Linked DNA regions of Homo sapiens. The protein of the gene in region 2 purifies or fractionates together with the protein of the main gene of each other region. This does not show direct contact. Each region holds a gene or a part of one and is shown on either strand. Other genes may lie near its edges.

Region 1 (2,678 bases), on a different chromosome or scaffold from region 2:
CTTGTAGGGGGGTTGCCCCCTAATCTCTGGGAACCCACTCCCCACCCAGCCAAGCAGAGCCAGCTCTGAGCCAACCCAATGCTGGGACTGAGTGTCCACGCCATCTGTGGCGTCCAGAGGAGATCAGGGCTCCAGGGACCTAAGCAGGTGTGAGGGCAGAGGGGAGGTGTGTGCAGAGGAAGAAGGGGAGGGGAGGGCTTGGGGTCAGGAAGAGGGCAACGGTGGCCACAGAGAGAGGACAGCAGCCGGGACAGGGACCAGGGACCTCGGGACAAGCTCGAGGGTCGAGCTGAGACTGGGGCAGGGCCCAGGTGACGTCCTCACCTTTCACCAGCAGCTCCAGGAAGTCACTGTGCTCAGACCATCCAGGGGGCTTATAATAGAGGCAGCGATAAAGCCCGGCATTTCCTTCACTTACTGAGTCAATGTGGAATCTGGCCTCTGACTCAGATGGACCAAGTCGAAACACATTATAACTATCTTTGTACTTGGCTCTATCCTCCCTCTCCAGGCGGAATGTTTGAACCCCAACCGGGCCCCGGCACATGAAAGTCACATGGCTCCCCGGGGAGATCACAGTGCCTGGCTCAGCCGAGATGGAGGGTCTGGGAAGGGCCCCTAAGAGGGAAGCAAAGAAGGATCTCAGCGTCCACTGTAGGAAGTCACCATGCCACACACGTCATTTTAGGATCACAATTCAGGGATTTTAGCAATTTTATAGAGTTATGCAGCCACGACCACAGCCCAACCTTAGAACATTCCCACGCCTCCTGCACCTTCTACGTGCATGTGATTCTCATCACTGCAGAGTTTTTTCCCAGTTGACAGTGAGGACCCTGAGACTTGCTCACAACTTGGGCCTTGCTCAGGGTCACGTGGGAAGTGTCGGAGCAGCCTGGAGCCCTTCATGCCTGCTGCAGAGCCCAGGGCCACTTTCTAGAGGGACAGAGGGTGGGAGGGAGGCACACGATGGGGATGACAGGGTCATTCGTGAAGGACAAGGGACAGGGAAGCGAGGGCTCTGGAGATGGCTCGTGCTGGGGCCTGAAGGGCACTGGCCGGTCCCCGGGTGGGACTGAGTGTGGGACGGGGGTTGCCAGGCTCCTTTGAGGGTCTGGTGGGGTGAGGGTGAAGCCCCCAGCCCTGATCTGCTCACAGCAGATGCCCAGCCCGTGACAGGTCCCCATTGCTAATGCAGATCTCTGTGGAGACACCACCTCTGGGTTTTCCTCTATAGTTTCTACTTTCTTCTCAGCTTAATTTGCATTTCCTTGTTATTAAGGCTCTTGAAAAACCCCATTTATCTCAACTGGGCTTGGGGTGGAGGAGGAAGGGCGGGTTTGACGCCCTGAAACAGGAAGGTTGTGTCAAAATTAGCAAAATCCCTGAGCGGGGCAGAGAGCTGGCAGGGCTTCAATTCACTCGTCCCGTCTTCATTCATTCCTTATTATTGACAAATTAAAACTGCATGTATTTAAGGTGTACAACATGATGTTTTGATACAGGTATACACTGTGGAATCGCTGAATCAAGCTAATTAATATAACCTCACTTTGCGTAGTTAATTGTTGTGGTGAGAACATTTAAAATCTGCCCTCTTAGCGATTTTCAAGCGTATGATATATTGTGATTAACTCTAGTCATTATGTTACACAATCCTGAACTTACTCTCCCTGTCTAGACGAAATTTTCTATCCTTTGACCAGCATCTCCCCAAACCCACCCATTTGTTCATTTTTCTTTCTTTTAACCATATCTCAGTTACTTATCAATCTGTTTAAAGACGCTTTTCATGAGCTGCTAATTCCGCAAATGTGAGAAACACATACAGGATGCCTGCCCTTTGGAGGTGGACGTCTAGAAGGGAGGACAGATATTGATCGAAGAATTGTCCAAATCTGCAGCTGCGAACTGCAATAAGTTTCCTGTGGGTAAGTGTGCAGGGATCTAGGGGACAGGTGGGCGGTGGAGCTGACCTCCTCTGCAAAGTCAGGGGAAGCTCTCTCTGAGCTGAGAGCTGAGGGAGGAGTAGAAACTCCCTGAGCTGAGCAGACAGGGGACACCAGGGCACTCAAAGTGGGAAAATTCCTCAAAGGAAACAAGGTTTTAGTTAGAGAGGAGAAATCAATTCAAGAATCATCATGTACAACACGGTGACTACAGTTAATAACAATGTATTACATTATTGGACATTGCTAATCCAGGTGATTCTAAGCGTTCTCACCACAAAAAAATGATTCGCACAGGAGGAATGCCTACGTTGCCTAGCTCGATGTAGCCATTCCTCGCTGTGTGCAGAGTCCACAACGTCATATTGGACATGACAAATACATGCAATTTTCATCGGTCAATTTTAAACTGAATTAATTAACTTTTAAAAATCAGACCAGGCGCGGTGTCTCACACCTGTAATCCCAGTACTTTGGGAGGCCGAGGTGGGCGGCTCACCTGAGGTCAGGAGTTCGAGACCAGCCTGATCAACATGGTGAATCCCCGTCTCTACTAAAAATACAAAAACATCAGCCAGGCATGGTGGCAGGCACCTGTAATCCTAGCTACCTGGGAGGTTGAGGCAGGGAGAATTGCTTCAACCAGGGAGGCAGAGGTTGCAGTAAGCCAAGACCGAGCCATTGCACTCCAGCCTGGGCAACAAGAATGAAACACCATCTCAAAAAAAA
Region 2 (3,500 bases):
GAGGTTCCATTCATGCTGGGCTTTGAAGGGCTGGTAGCTACTCAGCGGATGAGTATGCAAGGAAAGGCATTCCAGGTGGAGGTAACAGCGTAGGCAAAGGCACGGCAGTGTGAAAGCACTGGGTGCGCTGGATGGCTAGGATGGAATTGATCAGAGCAGAGCTGCACGGAGAGATGTAAAGGAAGATGGTGCTGCAGACACTTATAAGGACCAGATCATGAAGGGCCTTGAATGCCAGGTGAATATGTTTAGGCTGCATTTGGAGGGCAACAGGAAAGCAGGGGAAGATTCTAAGCAGGAGAAGGACTTGTTCCGATACGGATTCCAGGAAGCCCACTCAGGTTCCCAGAAGGCAGGAACAGAGGTCAGGGCCTGACCTAGCACTCACCGAGACAGGCTTGCCCTGCTCAGCATCCAAGCCTAGAAATACATGGCCCACAGGCCTCATGGGTCGTCGGGGCCCCAGAGGCTGGGAGGAGGCTGAGCTGCAGTCCACGTGCACAGAGGCCACACGTCCAGCCACACTCAGCATCAGCTTGTGCCAACGCAAGTCGAAGAGCTGGGGCACTGGGAAGATGCAGGACACAAAGTCGCCATCCTGGCCCTGGGCCCTGAGCTCCAGGCTCCGCTCTTGGCTGTTGACTTCCAGGGATATCTGGGTAGAATTTGGAAAGGGAAAGGACAGAGATTCAGAGCTCCAGAGTCACACCATGGGCACGTTCAGGGACCTTGAACTCATTTCACAGGAGGGGAACTGAGGCCCAGAAAGAGAAGAAAGCCGGCTGGGGTCAAGGAGCTATACATCCTGAAAGAATGAGGTAGGTACTGGTGGGCTGGGGACAGGCTTGAGGGTAGGCACAGGATGGAGCAGGGAGACCCCAGAAGTCACAAGCCGGGATGAAAGGTGGGCTGGACTGGTGCTACCCAATGCCCTAAGAGGCAATCAGGGCACAGGGGAGGTTCACCTGTGGATACCCATTTGCATCGGTCACTTGAAACAGATACCACGTCTTCTGGTGGGTGTGTTTCTTCAGCAGTAGTGTCAGCACCAGGGCAAACTCCTCCGGGAGACCCCGAGGGAATACTCTTCTGGAGATGGAGCAGGGAGGGTGCCCTGAGGCTCCAATGAGGACCCAAATGCTGCCCACCCTGAGCCCTCAGGACTGCTGAGCCTACCCAAGACATCCACAGGCACACATCTTCCATCATATACATTCATTCACTCTCCATACCTTTACTGAGTGCCTTCCGCGAGCTAGGTGCGGGTCTGGCTGCTGGGAATAACAGTGGTGAAGGCTGGGTGCGGTGGCTCATGCCTGTAATCCCAGCACTTTGGGAGGCCGAGGTGGGCGGATCACCTGAGGCCAGGAGTTGGAGACCAGCCTGGGCAGCATGGTGAAACACCGTCTCTACTAAAAATACAAAAAATTCGCCAGGTGTAGTGGCAGGCGCCTGTAATCCCAGCTACCCGGGAGGCTGAGGCAGGAGAATTGCTTGAACCCAGGAGGTGGAGGTTGCAGTGAGCCAAGATCACGCCACTGCACTCCAGCCTGGGCAACAGAGCAAGACTTGGTCTCAAAAAGAAAACCAACCAACCAACCAAACAAACAAACAAACAAAAAACCCACATACACAGTGGTGAAAATACAGAGGCACTGCCTGCCTTCATGGAGCCTTCACGTCTGATGGGGGCAGGGAGGCCATGAGCAAAGAATCCCCAGAATGACTATTTCGCTATCGCATTGCAATTTGAATAAGTGCTTCCAATGAACCCAGAATACCCTAGGTGAATAACTGGAGCAAGGGTGGAAGGAGAGATACTGAAAAAAAGATGGAAAGGGTTCAGCATGACCAGAGCAGCAAGAGATAAAAAAGAGCATTTTGAGAGCTGAGGTTGAAGAGGCAAGCAGGGGCCAGGCCAGGGCTTGTGGGAATTTGGACTTCACACACATGGGTGCACACACACGCATGTGCGCACACACACACATGCACACACGCACATGACTCTTGCCAGGTTCCCGCCCACATCCTGTGTTCTCACAGTGCCCACAGGATGCAGACCTGTTCCCACCCACTGCTGGCCAGAGACAGGGGAAAGACAGAAGGTAGGTCTGCCAGGTACCACCTCTCAGCCCACCCTGCAAGCCCAGGGGTGGAGACCAGGTTGACTCCTGGCAGGGGCTGGGATGCAATGACCCACAGACAGGCCCCTGGGCTTAAGCCCCACATCTGGAGTTGCTGAGGAGTGTGGCTGAGGTCAGTGTTGATTCTCAGTGGTCACATGGATGCATTTACCGCGTGGGCTGGGTCACGGGGGCCGCCCCCAGGCGCAGGATGAGAGGCCCCTTGGGGTTGCGGATCTTCTTGATGGCAGACGTCTTCATGAGGCTGAGTCGGTGGATGAGGTTGAAGCCTTTGGGGGAGACATCAGGTGAAGAGCTCAGCTGAGCAGGTGGAGAGGGGTACAGATCACTCCCAGAGGAAGGTTGCAGGGACGGCGCGATGAGATGGTTGGGTGCTCACCAGTCACGTTGGCTGGCAGGCTACTACTGTGTTCCAATTTGAGTCCTTCCTGCTGTGAAGGTGGGCATTGTGCACCTAGAAGAGAAGGGGCAGGGGGGCATTAGGTGCGCTCAGGCCAAGGTTGCTGCACGGCTGGACGCCTGGGGAACCTGGGAGGGAGCAAGTTTATAGTCCTCACTCTGGACCATCAGCTAGATCCTGCCTTCACCACCTGCCTTCTGACCCTGGCTCCCCAGGAAGCCTGGAGGCCCCCAACCCAGCATACAGTTTGGAAGACTGAGGTCCAGAGACTGAGGCCCAGGCCAAGGTCACTAAGTGAGCCAACAGCAGAGCAGGCCCAGAACTCCAGGAACCCAAATCTCCCAGCACTCCAAGTCAGGAGCTAGGCCAGCAAGGGAGAGAATACACGAAGCTCTAGGTGGCTCTCGAGCACAGATGGAGTGGGGAGCTGTGTATTTACACATGTGCCCCCTCCATGACATACACCCAGGTGGGGGGCAGAGGAGCTCTTCAGGGGTAAGGAAATGTCAGAATCATGCACATTGTGTGTTATGTACAATTATATGTACGTGTCTGTACATGTGGGAGTTGTAGGTGCCCATGCCACGAGGGATGACATGTGCAGCTGGCACACGTGTTCTCAGCAATAGGAACGTCCTACATCCAAATCAGACAAGCAGGCCAGACACAAGTAGGAGCCAACAGAATGAATATTTACCTGAATAACCACCTTGTGAAACAGCGAGAAGAGACTGAGGGTCTGAGGGGACCACAAGCTCAAGGGTACCACCAGGGCCTTGGAGCTCCAGGAAGGGCATATTAATGGGTTAGGGCTCCCAGAGAAGGAGATAGCTTAACTCAGGTTTCCAAAGCCCTGAAAGAACAGGTGGGCAGCCATGGGCCTCCCTCGCCCTGGGGCTGACTGAGCAGAAGTGTTGGGGGAGGTGCTACAACAGGAAAGACAGAGGCCAGAATCA
Region 3 (3,500 bases), on a different chromosome or scaffold from region 2:
CCAGGGATCGGGGAAGAGGCGGTGGGGTCAGCACAGCGCAGGGGTGGAAGGTGGCGAGAGGAAAGGAGGTGGCCGGCCAGCTAGGGCTCGGTGGCGTGCTTGACCAGGTAGCCACTGAAGGTGATGTAGGTGTCCAGCTCCTCGCTGAAGATGGCGTTCTCACGTTCGCCCTTGTAGAGGCGTACCCACACCTGGTCCTGCTCTCGCAGCTCCAGCATCAGGCTCTGGCTTTGCATGATGCTGCGGTCGCCCACCTGCGCGAACAAGATCACCACCTCCTCCTCGTTCTTCATGATGTGCAGGTAGGTCTCCTTCTGGTTCCAGGTGTGCACGTTGAGGCTGAAGAAGTAGAGGCCGGGCACGTAGCAGTAGAACTTGCCGGTGAACATGTTGAAGTGGTCGTAGAGGTTCACGAACTCCGTGTCGAAGATCACCGTCTGGTAGTAGTGGTTGCTGTGCATGGGCTTCTTCCGGCCCACCGAAAAGGCGGCGTAGTGGCTCTTGCACCGCTCCCCAGGGGCCCCCATGGAGCCCTTCTGCCCTTTGGGTCCAGTGTGGCCCCTGGCCCCTGCTGAGCCTGTTTTGCCATATTTCCCTTGGAGGCCTCGATCTCCGCGGTCACCCTTCTCCCCTAAAAGGGATGGGAAAACGCGTGCTGTTAATGGAGCAATCCGGTAGTGTCCTGAGCCTTGGCTGCTCACTCTCCGGTCCCTGGCGCTGTCCTGATTCGTCCTCACAGCCCTGACCTGGCAGAAGCTTCACTCCTGCCCCCAGCCCCCTGCCACGGGCGGCGTCCCAGCCTGGCACAGAGGTATTGTGATTCCCAAAATGGCCAAGCAAACAGACTCAACCTCAAGGATGGTTCTATTTTCGCCCAGAAGCAATAATTTTTTTTTCCTTCTGGAAAGCCCTGGTAAAAAAAAAAAAAAAGAAAAGAAAAAAAAGAAAATGGAACATACGGGTTCGTCCAAAAGCAATGGGCTCTGCGGCCAGACCGACGGCTCGCTCTGAGCAAATGAACTCCAGATGTCGGGGCCAGCTGGGGATCTAGGCTGCAAGTGTTTCCAGTTCGATTTCACGGGGCTGTGCAGGGTTATCTGCCGTGTGCAGGACCGGAGCGAGCAGGTGGCATTTCAGAAAGCAGGCTGGGGGACCAAGCCCCAAAGCAAAGGGCCTAGAAGCCTGGCGTCCACATACAACTGGAGGGACGAGACCCCGAGTAGCCTCTGGGCTCCCTCTCCTGCTCTTGGTCCTGTGGGCCCCTTTCCAACCCCTCCTCTTGGAGAGGGGCCAGAGCCTCAAAATCAGAATTTCCTGTGCCTTCCCCTCTAGATGACAGCCTGCCTGCCTCTGCTCCCTGTCCCGAGGGAGCCATTCTGCTCTCGCCTAGCCCCACCCTAACGACTCCATCCCTTCCTCCGGATCAGCACAGAGCAGCCCGGCCACCCCGTGCTTGTCTTTGCAGCCATCTGACCTTTCAAGATAGTGATGTTGATCTGGGGCACGGCGGTCGCCGGGTACATGGAGGTACCGGGGTCACAGCAGCGCAAGCACCGGGAAGCAGGGAGCCCCTGGTCCTGACTGGGCCTGTATTTTTCATGTTGTTCTTCAGCCCTGAGGGAATAAAGAATCACAGTGAAAGTCAGCCACTCTCAGGCCTGGAAACGCTGCTCTCTCCTGCTGCCAGTGGTTCTGGCATGCCTGACCTGCCTTCTCACTCTCTCACCTGGACCCACAAGGCTCTGTGTTCACGCTGGTGGGCTCACGGCCCACTCTGGGATCCTCACTACCGAACGAGCCCCCTGCCCTCTGTTAAAGGCAATGACAGTCCTGGAAACACACGCAGCGATCAATTGAGTGCCACGCAAGATGGGGGCTGCTCGGGAGAAATCCACACTTCTAAGAGAGGGTCTTTGGGTGACACAAGACAATGCCGGGACTCCCTATCGTATATCCGTGATGCTAGAAAATAACATATGAAGCTGACTCGTCTGCAAATAAGAAGGTTCAACTGGATCTTTAGGATTCCCCTCAGCTGTAGCCGCTGGAGAGACTCTTATGTTTCCAACCTGATTGGAAGGACAAGCCCGCAGGCAGGATGGACGGCGGCGGCTCCTGGCTGCCACCTCGCGGCCCCTCATGGCATCACATGTGCTCTGGCTTGTGGCTCTTCTTGCCCAGGCTGTAGAGCTGCGCAGACCCACGGGGGCAGCAAAGTCCCCCTGGATGGGCCAGCTCCTCATCTAATGCTGCTCCCACTTCTGCACCCCAGACTATCCAGGAAACGGATCTCTGTGCCCTAAGTTCAGCTACCCATAAGCCCAGGACTCCCAGATGGACATCTCACCCCTACCTCTCTCCTAAGCCCCAGACCTTGACTTCAAACTTCTCACCAGAAGTCTCCATCTGGAGATGCAACAGGCCCCACAGATGTCATGTATGCAAAACCGAAACCCCTGTCCCCATCCCTTCGCCCCTGGAATCTTCTCTTTCTGAGCTCTGTTCCTGGCATCAACAGCGGGTGCCCAGGGTGGAGCCTTCGGCATCACCCCCGACTCCCTCCGCCAACCCCCTGGCACAACTTTCAGCAGAGTCCTGGGCTCCCAGCCAAAAGGCACCTCCAGAACTGAGCCCAGGGCCCTCATCATCTCTGATGCACCCCTGCCATTTCGACTCTCACTTGGAATCTGCCCCTCCCCGCACCAGCTCATCCTCTCTGCTGCCTCCCTCTGGCATTCTTCCGAGAACACCGTCCAATTCAAGCTTTCCCATGATTCCTCTTGTTCTTTGTAGGATTGAGTTCAGGTGAGACCCTCCCCAACTAGACCCAGCTGCCTCCAGGCTCAACTGCCCTACTGTCCTCCAGCCTCCAGCCTCCAGCACTGGGTCTCACCATCCCAAACCACCCACCAGCCCAACAAACACCACCAGCCATGCCTTTGCACACCCCATTCTGGCTACCAGGTAGCTTTCCCCTCCTTCTGCACCTGGGAGGCCCGCAGGTGTCCTTCAAGACCTAGTTCACTCCTTTCAGTCTTCCTGGGACCCGCTCCTCCCTCTCCTGGCCCTGCCTCCAGCGTCATGGGTACACCCCTACTACAAAGCCCACCACGCTGCCCTGTCTCTCATGTGTCTATCTCCCTCTCGGCCTCAGAGCTCCTGGAGGCCAGGACTGTGCCACTCATGTGTCCCCCCGTGCCTGGGGGATGGCCTGACTGATAGGAGGGGCTCAATCAAAGAAAGAGGAGGGAGAGGAAGAAAGAACGGAATGATGTGACTCAACCTCAAATCCTGTCCAATCCCATCGTACACTGAAGTTAGTCTGAAGCCTCAAGTATCAAGTCAGCCCAACGCTCAAAATAATGAAGAGACTCCAAGCCAGGCTTGAGCTGTCGCCGGGTCTCCAGGACCTCACTCTGGGTACATGGCAGTTGGATGAAGCACTCGGCTTCCCTAGGAAATGTCCCAGGTCGGCTGGAGTCTCTCTGTCATTGCAGGTC
Region 4 (3,500 bases), on a different chromosome or scaffold from region 2:
AATTCTCCTGCCTCAGCCTCCCAAGTAGCTGAGATTACAGGCCCCTGCCACCATGCTCGGCTAACTTTTTGTATTTTTAGTAGAGATGGGGTTTCACCATGTTGGCCAGGCTGGTCTTGAACTCCTGACCTCAGGTGATCCACCCACCTTGGCCTCCCAAAGTGCTGAGATTACAGGCATGAGCCATCGTGCCTGGCAAGAATGTTCTTTTGATCTTAGGCAAAGTTGAGTATGTGTTACATTAACAAACCGGGAAATTAGCAGACTCTTTGTTTTATATCTACAGTTTTATTTTGTTCCTTAAGAGTTATTAAGAGCAATAAAAATTTCTGCTTACTGCGGAAATTTGAACACTAGATATTTGATATTACAAAACTTGTGAATTTTTAGGTGATAATGGTATTGTAGTTATTTTGAATTTGTATCTTTAAAAGATACATACTAAAATATTTAGTAATGAAACAGAAAAGAAAATGTTTAATGAGGGAACAGGTGCAGTGGCTCACGCCTGTAATCCCAGCACTTTGGGAGGCCGAGGCAGGCGGATCACGAGGTCAGGAGATCAAGACCATCCTGGCTAACAAGGTGAAACCCCATCTCTACTAAAAATACAAAAAATTAGCTGGGCGTGGTGGCAGGCGCCCGTAGTCCCAGCTACTCAGGAGGCTGAGGCAGGAGAATGGCGTGAACCCAGGGGCCGAAATGGCGCCACTGCACTCTAGCCTGAGCAACAGAGCGAGACTCCGTCTCAGAGAAAAAAAAAAGAAAATAATGAGTCTAACAGTGTCACCATCTTTGTATTTACTCATTAGCTCAAGCATGTCCTCCTAGGACTCCATGAACCTATCTATTGAAAGTGTCACCATACGTATTGTATACTTTGCTGTTAGTGGTTAAGCTGTCAACAGTCATCAATATCGAAATGCAAAGCCCAGCTTGAGTTTACCAGTAGTAAAGAAAATGTTAAACACTTTTCAAATGTTTACACCTAAAAGTACTTACTCCAAAAATTCACTAACTCCTTCTATGCAAGCCTGTGTTCAACTGAAAACTAATACCACATGAAATTCCTTTTCAAAAGGTTCCATAATCAATTAATATTGAGAAAGAATGTATATCATATCACAATGCACATTATCATAAAAAGGTTCTGAGAAGTTTTGAGGCTAAACAAAAACCTATGTTCAACTTTGTTTAACAAATGTTCCCCAGACTTTGTTCTTTTTGCTTTTGGCCTAGTATCTATTAACATCTATAGAACTGGAATTCTGAGTTATAAATACATATACAATAAACAAAGTAATATTTATAGATATATTTTAAAGAAATATTAAAGACAAAATCTGTTGAAAACTTTCTGCATTTTCAGTATTAAACAGACTAAAGCATTTCACTAAGCAATCTTGTGAAGATTAACTAGGAGCAAAACTACAAGGGATTATTGTATAGATGAATCTGTTGTATCTCATAAGATGCACAGAGTAGTGTTATTGTCTCTAATTAAGGCTGCTGAACAGATGAGTGTGGTGGCTGACGCCTGTAATCCCAGCACTTTAGGAGGCCGAGGCGGGAGGATCACCTGAGGTCAGGAGTTTGAGACCAGCCTGGCCAACATAAGGAAACCCCGTCTTTACTAAAAATACAAAAAAGTTAGCCGGGCATGGTGGCGAATGCCTGTAGTCCCAGCTACTTGGGAGGCTGAAGCACAAGAATTGCTTGAACCCAGGAGGCGGAGGTTGCAGTGAGCCGAGACTGCGCTACCGCATTCCAGCCTGGGTGATAGGGTGGGTTTCTGTCTCAAAAAAAAAAAAAAAAATACTGCTGAAATCTCTCTTGCATTAAATATAAAAAAAACTATCACTTCCTTTAAACTTATTTGATCCTTCACCCTGGAAGGATCAAATGAAAAAGGTAATATTGCCCCAAACATATGTAATAGTATATGATTCACAAGCTTTATTTTAAAGCTATTTTACTAATAATTGGAACATATTAAATGTGGCACCCACAGAGAGAGAATGGTATACTGTAATTTTTTTTTTAAAGTTTTTTAGGCTGGGCACAGCAGCTCACGCCTGTAATCCCACCACTTTGGGAGACCAAGGCAGGTGGATCACAAGGTCAGGAGTTTGAGACCAGCCTGGCCAACATGGTGAAACCCCATCTCTACTAAAAATACAAAAATTAGCCGGGTATGGTGGCGGGCACCTGTAATCCCAGCTACTCAGGAGGCTGAGGCAGGTGAATCGCTTGAACCCAAGAGGCGGAATTTGCAGTGAGCCGAGATCATGCCACTGCACTCTAGCCTGGGTGGCAGGGTGAGACTCCATCTCAAAAAAAAAAAAAAAAGTTTTTTAGAGACAGGGTCTTATTCTGTAGCCCAGGCTGGAGTGCAGTGGTGTAATCATAACTCACTGTGCCCCTGAACTCCTGGTTCAAGTGATCCTCCCACCTCAGACTCCTGAGTAGCTAAGACTACAAGTGTACACCAGCATGCCCAGCTAATTTTTAAATTTTTTTGTAATGGGGTCTATGTTGCCTAAGCTGACATACTGTAATATTTTATGCAGTCATTCTGATTTTTATCACATAGGCTTAAATATAAAATAACTGATTCTCTCCAGAACTGTGTACAAACACATACACACACACATTCACATACACACAATTGGCTTTTCCACTTTACCATTTTGATACCCTCCCCACGGCACAGCATTTCGTACTTCTGTCTCTCTGGCAGGTAATCCACAGCAACCCCTTTTTTCTTTGGTGTAGTTTTCTGATCAGATTGGTCATCTGAAGCAGACTTATTGACATCTTTTTCTTTAGCCATTATATACTCAAAATATTTTAAGTTACCATTAGCTCTCTGATGTTCAGGATCTATTAGAAGAGAAACAAAGCATGTCCATGGGTAAGTTCATGCTTGTTCAAGCATCAGAATATAGTAATATAAAAATAGGAGACATTATAATTTATCTTCCAAACCAGGTTGCTGTTGTGAGTGAAAGGAGGCACTAATAAAAATTATTATACCAAAATAATAGGTATAAGTTACTACTGCCCCCAAGTAAATCAGGACATATAGTCACCTATATAAAAACAGTTCTGGGCCAGGCCTGGTGGCTCACACCTGTAATCCCAGCATTTTGGGAGACTGAGGTGGGTGGATCACCTCAGGTCAGGAGTTCGAGACCAGCCTGACCAACATAGTGAAACCTCGTCTCTACTAAAAATACAAAATTAGCTGGGCGTGGTGGTGGGTGCTTGCAATCCCAGCTACTCAGGAGGCTGAGGCAGGAGAATCACTTGAACCCGGGAGGCGGGGGTTGCAGTGAGCCGAGATCATGCCATTGCACTCCAGCCTGGGCAAAAGGAGTGAAACCCTGTCTCAAAAAAGACAGTTCTGGAGACAGAAACAGCTATTTATTTAAAGGTGGCAACTGGTGCTTTTACTTTGAGAATTTACTAATCAGCTAAAGGAACTAAGTTCAATTTGA

What was found. The genes of interacting proteins can lie anywhere in the genome.
Region 1: the proteins of COL16A1 (region 2) and LAIR2 purify together in Homo sapiens (co-immunoprecipitation; one large-scale study listed by IntAct). This does not show direct contact.
Region 3: the proteins of COL16A1 (region 2) and C1QTNF1 purify together in Homo sapiens (co-immunoprecipitation; one large-scale study listed by IntAct). This does not show direct contact.
Region 4: the proteins of COL16A1 (region 2) and P4HA1 purify together in Homo sapiens (affinity purification with mass spectrometry; one large-scale study listed by BioGRID and IntAct). This does not show direct contact.

Annotation. Positions count from the first base shown.
Region 1 is NC_000019.10:54,505,831-54,508,508, reverse strand, and holds part of LAIR2 (leukocyte-associated immunoglobulin-like receptor 2 isoform a precursor), read right to left. Parts: intron 619-2,678; coding exon 325-618; intron 1-324.
Region 2 is NC_000001.11:31,697,518-31,701,017, forward strand, and holds part of COL16A1 (collagen alpha-1(XVI) chain precursor), read right to left. Parts: intron 2,599-3,500; coding exon 2,524-2,598; intron 2,414-2,523; coding exon 2,296-2,413; intron 1,375-2,295; exon of another isoform or gene 1,233-1,374; intron 1,090-1,232; coding exon 966-1,089; intron 656-965; coding exon 389-655; intron 1-388. UniProt on the Homo sapiens protein: Involved in mediating cell attachment and inducing integrin-mediated cellular reactions, such as cell spreading and alterations in cell morphology.
Region 3 is NC_000017.11:79,044,669-79,048,168, reverse strand, and holds part of C1QTNF1 (complement C1q tumor necrosis factor-related protein 1 isoform 1 precursor), read right to left. Parts: exon of another isoform or gene 3,284-3,500; intron 1,615-3,283; coding exon 1,475-1,614; intron 632-1,474; coding exon 81-631; 3' UTR 1-80.
Region 4 is NC_000010.11:73,048,367-73,051,866, forward strand, and holds part of P4HA1 (prolyl 4-hydroxylase subunit alpha-1 isoform 2 precursor), read right to left. Parts: intron 2,884-3,500; coding exon 2,687-2,883; intron 1-2,686. UniProt on the Homo sapiens protein: Catalyzes the post-translational formation of 4-hydroxyproline in -Xaa-Pro-Gly- sequences in collagens and other proteins.